2 linked regions of the Homo sapiens genome follow. The protein of the gene in region 2 purifies or fractionates together with the protein of the main gene of each other region. This does not show direct contact. Each region holds a gene or a part of one and is shown on either strand. Other genes may lie near its edges. The genes, in order: HHIPL1 and DYM.

What was found.
Region 1: the proteins of DYM (region 2) and HHIPL1 purify together in Homo sapiens (affinity purification with mass spectrometry; one large-scale study listed by BioGRID and IntAct). This does not show direct contact.

Annotation. Positions count from the first base shown.
Region 1 is NC_000014.9:99,647,938-99,651,753, reverse strand, and holds part of HHIPL1 (HHIP-like protein 1 isoform a precursor), read right to left. Parts: intron 1-3,816.
Region 2 is NC_000018.10:49,041,077-49,044,892, reverse strand, and holds part of DYM (dymeclin), read left to right. Parts: intron 1-688; coding exon 689-838; coding exon of another isoform or gene 839-948; 3' UTR 949-3,816. UniProt on the Homo sapiens protein: Necessary for correct organization of Golgi apparatus. Involved in bone development.

The sequences.
Region 1 (3,816 bases), on a different chromosome or scaffold from region 2:
TTGGCTCTGCCCATGGACAGCTCCATCATCAGCTCCTGCCTCTCCCCACCTCTCCAGCCTCCTGTCTACCTTCCATCTCCTGATACTCTGATATGGCTTGGATCTGTGTCCCTACCCAAATCTCGTGTAGAATTGTAACCCCCAGTGTTGGAGGAGGAGCCTGGTGGGAGGTGACTGGATCACGGGGCGGAGTTCTCACGCATGGTTTAGTTTAGTACCATCTCCCCTTGGTACTGTAGAGCGAGTGAGTTCTCATTAGATTTGGTTGTTTTAAAGTGTGCCCCCACACCATCTCTCTCTTGCTGCTGCTGTCGTCATGAGACATGCCGCCTCCCCTTTACTTTCCACCATGATTGTAAGTTTCCTGAGAACGCCCCAGAAACAGAGGCCACTATCCTTCCTATACATCCTGCAGAACTGTGAGCCCATTAAACCTCTTTTCTTTATAAATTACCCAGTTTTGTTTTGTTTTGTTTTGTGTTTGTCCGTTAGTTTTTTTGAGACAGGGTCTCTCTTTCTCTCTGTCACCAAGGCTGGAATACAGTGGCACCATCTCAGCTCACTGCAATGTCTGCCTCCTGGGCTCAAGAGATGCTCCTGCCTCAGCCTCCTGAGTAGCTGGGACTACAGGCGAGAGCCACCACGCCTAGCTAATTTTTGTATTTTTTGTAGAGATGGGGTTTTGCCATGTTGCCCAGGATGCTCTCGAACTCCTGAGCTCAAGCCATCTTCCCGCTTCAGCCTCCCATAGTGCTGAGATTACAGGCGTGAGCAACTGCACCCAGCCAGGTATTTCTTTATAGCGATGAGAGAAGAGACTAATACATACTCCCTGCCATTTCACACCTCTGAGCCTCAGCACAGGCTGTTCCCTTTGCAGGCATGCCCTTTCCCTGCTCTTCTCTGGCAGGCAGAATTCTCTTTATTCTTAAATCATGGCCATGGCCGTGGGGGAAGCCATGCTAACCAATCACAGCAGCTCCTGGGGTTTGGGGCAAATTGTGGACCAGGCACCAGGGCAGTGTGCCCATGAATCTGCATTTCCTCCTCAAGGCAACCATGGGAGGGAGGCCTGTTCTTATTACCACTGCACAGAGGTGGAAGCAGAGACAGCAGAAGGGAGCCCAAAGTATCATGTCACATGCCAGTGGGCTGGGGTTTGAGCCACGTCTGCTCAGCTCTACTGGCCAGCTCCCAACTACCCATCCCCAACGCCAGTTAAGTGTCCCCACACCACAGCACCCTCCCTGCACCCTACCCCTACAGCTCCAGGCTGTCTGCGGGCCTCCCTGTTAGAGCCGCCGGCCTGTGGCGTGGTCATTCTTTCTATCTGTGACTGACACCCTCCCCCACCTGTGAGTCCACCAGGCCAAGCCTGGGTCTGAGTCAGCTCTGGGCCCCCAGAGCTTCGGGGGATGCTCCTTCTGCAGTGGGGAGGTACTGACAGCCACACACTCCCTCCCCTCACAGGGAGGACCAGGCTGGGTTCCAGCAAGAGGCCTCTGGGACGTTTGGGGGAGGATTGGGGATGGGGGATGGCAGGCTGCCTCCCGGGGTGTTCTCAAGCCCCAGGCCAGGGCCCACTCACTCCTGTGACATGATTGTGGCTTTTGGTCATACCACAGCATGTCCTCCTGGCCCCTCTACTGCTGTGAGGCTAGGTCTCACCTGACTGGCCAAGGGCCACTTGGCAGAATGTCTTGGGGTCCTGGTCAGTTACTGTCCCAGGTACAGACCAGGGTGCCATGTCTTACATGCTCCCCTCTGCCAGTGAGCAGGCCAGATGGCCAGGCCTCAGGCCGCCGTGTGTGCTGTCCCTCCCATGGTTCACTGGGAACCACCTGTGGGTCAGCCGGCAGCTGCACGTGGACCAGGGAGGGGCTGTGTGCACACGTGCCTTCTTTCATCTCTGCAAGGTAGGGTCATTGTCACTATTTTATTTTATTTGTTTATTTTTTGAGACAGGGACTCTCTCTGTCATCCAGGCTAGAGTGCAGTGGCACAATCCTAGCTCACTGTAGCCTTGACCTCCTGGGCTCTAACGATCCTCCCCACCTCAGCCTCCAGAGTAGCTGGAACCACAGACGTGCTCTACCACACCCGGCTAATTTTCATTTTTATTTTTTGCAGAGACAGGGTCTCTCTATGCTTCCCAGGCTTGTCTTGAACTCCTGGGCTCAAGCAATCCTCCCGCCTTGGCCCGCCAAAGTTCTGGGATTATAGGCATGAGCCACCGTACACGGCTTGACTCCTATTTTATAGATGAGGAACTGAGACTTAAAGAAGGCCACGTGCCAAGAAGTAGCCAAACCAGGGCTCACACCCAAGCCTCATGATGCCTGGACTGGTGTTCTTTCCAGATTAGTCAGCAACATTTCATTCACCAAGAATTTACTGAGCAGAGATTGTACCAGGCACCATCTTGGTTCCAGAGACGCAGTGAGGGGCAGAACAGACATCTGGAAGGCAACGAGAGCCCTCCGTTCACCAAAGCCCAATCCAGAACTACAGAGGGAGCAAAAGTTCCCTCAGGGAGCCAGGCCGAAGACCTCGGCATCCGTGCGTCCCAATCACACAGCAGATGCTTCCTCGTGGCCTATGTACTCTTACTTACACACGACGTAAATGTGGTGCCCAGACCAGGGTAGTCCAGAGCTAGGAAGTGACAAGAAGACATAGTGATTGCTGCTGGCAAGAGGATGATCCGCAGCTTGGCCTCAGTGTGTTTAGGGGCAGGTGGCAGGAAGGCCATAGGAAACCAGCCCAGTATCGCAGGCTTCAGCCGCCCGGGCCATTCAGTGCAGGGCGGAGGGCCCCCATCTTGCCCAGAGTTTGCCACCCCCATGTCACTGACACTCGTGACTCATGGCCCTGGGTCCTGAAGGTTTCTTATGTCCACCGTTCATTTTTTGAAAGAGCAAGCCTTTGCACAGTGTCCTGTCCATCGGATATTTGCTTCTCACCTACTTCCTCATCTGGCAAACTGCTATTCATGACTCAAGGCCTACTCAAAGGTCTCCTCTTGTCCTCCATGCTCCCAGGGCTCTGACTGTCCCATCCCTGGCCCTTATGGATGCTCCCAATGCACTCTGTCCATATCTCAGACACGACACTCACTCCATTGAATCTTGTAGCTTACAGGGTGAGTTCTCTACAGCAGTCACTGCTCCGTCGCCAGGGGCGCTCCAGCCAGTCAGCTTGGCTAGGACTTCATTATCTCTTTGCATGTCTGTCCACTCCACGGACTGTGGGACACAGTGGGGCTTCAAGGAGGGAGGCAGTGTGGCAAAGCGGTTAGGAGAATGGCTTTGGAGCCAGCGCACACATTCCCCATGGGGAATGCTCCTTAACCTCTTACTGCTCTTAACCGTGGGCAAGCTCCTTAACCTCTCTGTGCCTATGTCCTCATCTGTGGAAGGGGAAAGGAATTCCAACCTCATAGAGTTGTTGGGAGGAACAAATGGAGAAGATGTATGTGTTTGTTCAGTAAATAATGAGCTATCAACATGCAACCAACATTCAGGAAGCCTTCCCTGAGGTATGTGGCCTTGTTCCTACACTCCTTGAGGAATTTCTGGCACCTTCCTGTGTGTGTCAGTCTCCTGAAGTGATGAAGGGGATTTTTGAGACTGGGCCTGTGACTTGCCAACTGTTTTTGGGCCCAGCATCCAGCACAGGGCTGCCTCCTAACAGGCTCAGGAAGAGCCTGCTGAATACATGAGCCCATAGAATACATTTCATGGAGATCTCCATCAGAAACCATGCTTTGATGATTTTAGTGGCTTAGAGAGGCAACCCCAGTCACAGGGGAGGTTA
Region 2 (3,816 bases):
CTGGAGTTTGCAGACCAGGGCACCTGCGATGTGTTTGTAGAGCCAGGCCTAGGCCTTTTCCCAGACTCCATGAGGAGCAGCCTCGGGCTCCCTCTCCGCAAAGCCAAAGCCATTGCTCCTGCCTCCAGGGAGGAAGAGACTGAGGCCAAGCTATGGCCAAGAAAGCTGGCCACCCCAGACCCCCGCTCCTCCAGAGTAGCCCCCCTCCACCGGTGGCACATGCCTACCCCTTCAGGTCAGGGCTCAGGATTGTGAAGGGGAAGGTCCTCACCTCCAGAATGGTGGAACCCTGAGGACAGTGCCTCTCAAAAGCCAGTCCCTAGCATTGCACTCTGGGGAATATCAGCCTGAGCCTTGTCTGCCTCCCAGGCAGGGTCCATGTCTCAGCTAGGATATTTCTCATCATACCTTAACCACTGTTGGGGTCCCTAGCAGGGAACTATCAGCCAAACTGACATTAGCCAACCAGGACCCATTGTGTTACTTGCTCTCTCCATCGGTAATTCACATTTTCTCAGGAGCCATTTGATAGCTGAAATATTTTAAAGCCCCAGAGCTTTCATGCCCTGTGACCAGTTGGCAGGGGTGGGTGGGCTCCCCGCACACCACAGCACCACCTGCAAACTCTCACCACTTTTGCTTGTGCATGGAACTGTGGGATTATAAAATCATCTTATTTTCATTGCAGAAATTTCCAGAATTGAAATTCAAATATGTGGAAGAGGAGCAGCCCGAGGAGTTTTTTATCCCCTATGTCTGGTCTCTTGTCTACAACTCAGCAGTCGGCCTGTACTGGAATCCACAGGACATCCAGCTGTTCACCATGGATTCCGACTGAGGGCAGGATGCTCTCCCACCCGGACCCCTCCAGCCAAGCAGCCCTTCAAGTTCTTTTATTTCTGGGTAACAGAAGTAGACAGACAGGTTACTTGGTGTATCTTCTGTTAAAGAGGATTGCACGAGTGTGTTTTCCTCACACACTTTGATTTGGAGAATTGGTGCTAGTTGGCAATAGATAACTCAGCGTAGATAGTATTGCAAAAAGGGGAGGAAATACACAACAATAATAAATGTAAAAACCTGCTATTCAACATGCAGTTTTATTTCGAAGCCAAAAATCTAGAGCTTTCCCAAGATCCTGTTGCCTTAGGCACATCACACTTCAACAGTGCACACTATCCAACAGTGCACACTATTCAACAGTGCACACTATTCAAAAGCGTAGACTATTTTTTTGCATGTTCAAGATATTTGTTTTGGTCTTATGTGTGTGTGAGAGAGAGAGATTCCTTTGACATTAAGGAGCATCAATGAGAAAAGATGATGAGGCAGGAATTAATAAAGAAATGAAGTCGTGTGTGTTTGGTTGCCTGTCAGAGGGCACACAATTTCATAAACACCATGCCTGGACAATTTGATATTAATATTTAACACCTCTGCATCTTTTCTTAAAAAAGAATATGGGCCAGATACAGTGGCTCACATTTGTAATCCCAGCACTTTGGGGAGCCAAGTTAGCAGAATCCCTTGAGCACAGGAATCTGAAACCAGCTTGGGCAACATAGTGAGATCCCATCTCTACAAAAAACTTAAAAATTAGCCAGGCATGATGGCACATTCCTGTAGTCCTAGCTACTCAGGAGGCTAAGGTAGGAGGATTGCCTGAGCCCAGGAGTTCAAGGCTGCAGTGAGCTAAGAACGTGCCAGTACACTCCAGCCTGAGCCACAAAGTGAGACCCTGTCTCGCAAAAAAAAAAAAAGAAAGAAAAGAAAAAGAAAATGGCTACTTCTCATGAAGCCCAGATTAACTTTTCTGTGAATATGGCCTGTGAACTGTTGCTGGAATTAAATTGGAGTCTAGCACAAATTAAGTTAATCTACTCTGTATTAATCATTGGGAAAAAGAAAAGCTTCATTTGAAAACAGTCTTTTTCCTTCACCCACACTAATAGAAAAAGGAGAGTAATTTGTTCATACTGTATTCCACGTGGGATGAAAAGCATGTTTTGCTCTTTGTTTCTGGGCCGGTGTGATCCGTGTGTTGGTGCCTGAGCTGGAGGAAGGAGCTTCTTGCAGGGAAACAGCCACTGGGGCCACATTGAGGGCCAGTTGGGACCTTCCTTTCCAGTCACACTCTGTGTCCTCACGGGCCCCTTCACAGTCTAGATAAGGAGCCTAGTTTCATTCTCAAAGAAAAAGTATTTGGTCTTCAACATAGAAAGCACAAAAGCCCAGACGAGACTGAGCACACTGTTCGAATCCACTGCCAGCTCATCTGTGTCAGGGCTGGCTTCTCCTGTCCTGTGTCCCAGGGCTGCAGGCCCGTGTTATTTGAGTCCATCAAATCTTCCGAGGGCCTCGGAGGAACCATTCTCAGTCACCCCAAGCTCTGTAAAAGGTCAAAACACTGGCAGCCTCTCAGTGCACCACTGTGTGGGCTCCACACGGGAAGGCCTGGCCAAGCTGTGCTCTTAGAGGCTGTCGAGGTAGGGCAGGAAGCTTCCCTATCCTCGTCTGGATGGAATGAAACAGAGGTTCCCTAAGGCCAAGGGACTCGTGGAGCGCCCATCCCGGGTGGGGTCCCAGAGGTGAGTGCAGCTTGCCTCCTGTCCCCAAGGGGCTTGTTCTGTCAGGCCTCCTCCAGTCACTGCTGGAGTGGGGACTCTGACTCCTGTGTTCACCTCAGAGCCCATGTACAGGCTAGAGGTGAGGCTTGGCAACAACTTCTACTAATACTTAGCTTTGTGGCAGAGCCAGTCTGAAGGAGGAGAAGCGCTCTCAGCCAGCAGGGGGAGTGATGATTATCATTTCAGGTAGCAAGGATATGTATTTACTATGTGGGGAAATAATTTGCAACTTTAATTTGTTTCCAAAGCATTTTGATTGGCTTCCTTTTCCTTTAAACCAAAAAATTGTTTAAATGTTTAAGGGTCATGTGGAACAGCTGAGCTTCTGGCAGGACCACAGAACTGTCCTCTGAGTCTGAGGGCTGGGCAGTGCCACAGGACAGTCCCTGGGCTGCAGGACTGTCAGTGCTTGTTGTGTGAGGAAATGAGGCCCTTCAAAAACCCAGTCATCTTGACAGAGGGCACACTCCCAAGGAAGGCCTGACTGGGGAATCATACAGCCTCTCCTCCAGGCCTCTGGGCTCACTGAGGTGCCCCCAGAACCCTGATTGCCCTCCCCTCTTTCCCTTTTCTCATTCATCACACAGTAGAAGCACTCACTAGCTAACAGCTCAGCTGGGGCAGCAGCCTCCATGGAGGCCTGCAAGTGATGCTCCCAGTCCTGGTTCCCGCTCAGGAGGGAGGCCCCACCACGTGCATCACTGCCTCAGCTCTGCAAAGTCACCAGAGGCTTCTTCCTGATTTTTGTGAAAGATTTATTATATGGCAATAAATCTGAATGATAAACTTTCATTATACTTGCATTAATTTTGAGTATTAGTTTGCTTAGAAATTTTTACACGAAGTAAAAATGTGTAATGATGCAACACAGGATCATCGTGTGTTCAGATGGAAATTGGCATCTGATTTTACCCCAGATCTGAAGCTGTTACTGCATTGTGTCATTTTATCAACAAAGACTTCTGCCACAATATTTACTTTTAAAAGAATTTGTCCCTTTCAATAGCATCTTCCCTATCAAGAGTTCAAGGCACTTTGCAGAAGAGCTTCAGATTTCTAACTCTAGTTCCCACAGTCACCCGTTGAGGCTGGTGTCATACAATCTATGAACAACAACCTTGCAGCAGGACTGCCACCATTCAGCAGTGCAGACAACACAGCTCAAGGACAAAGACAGAGAAAGGAAAGA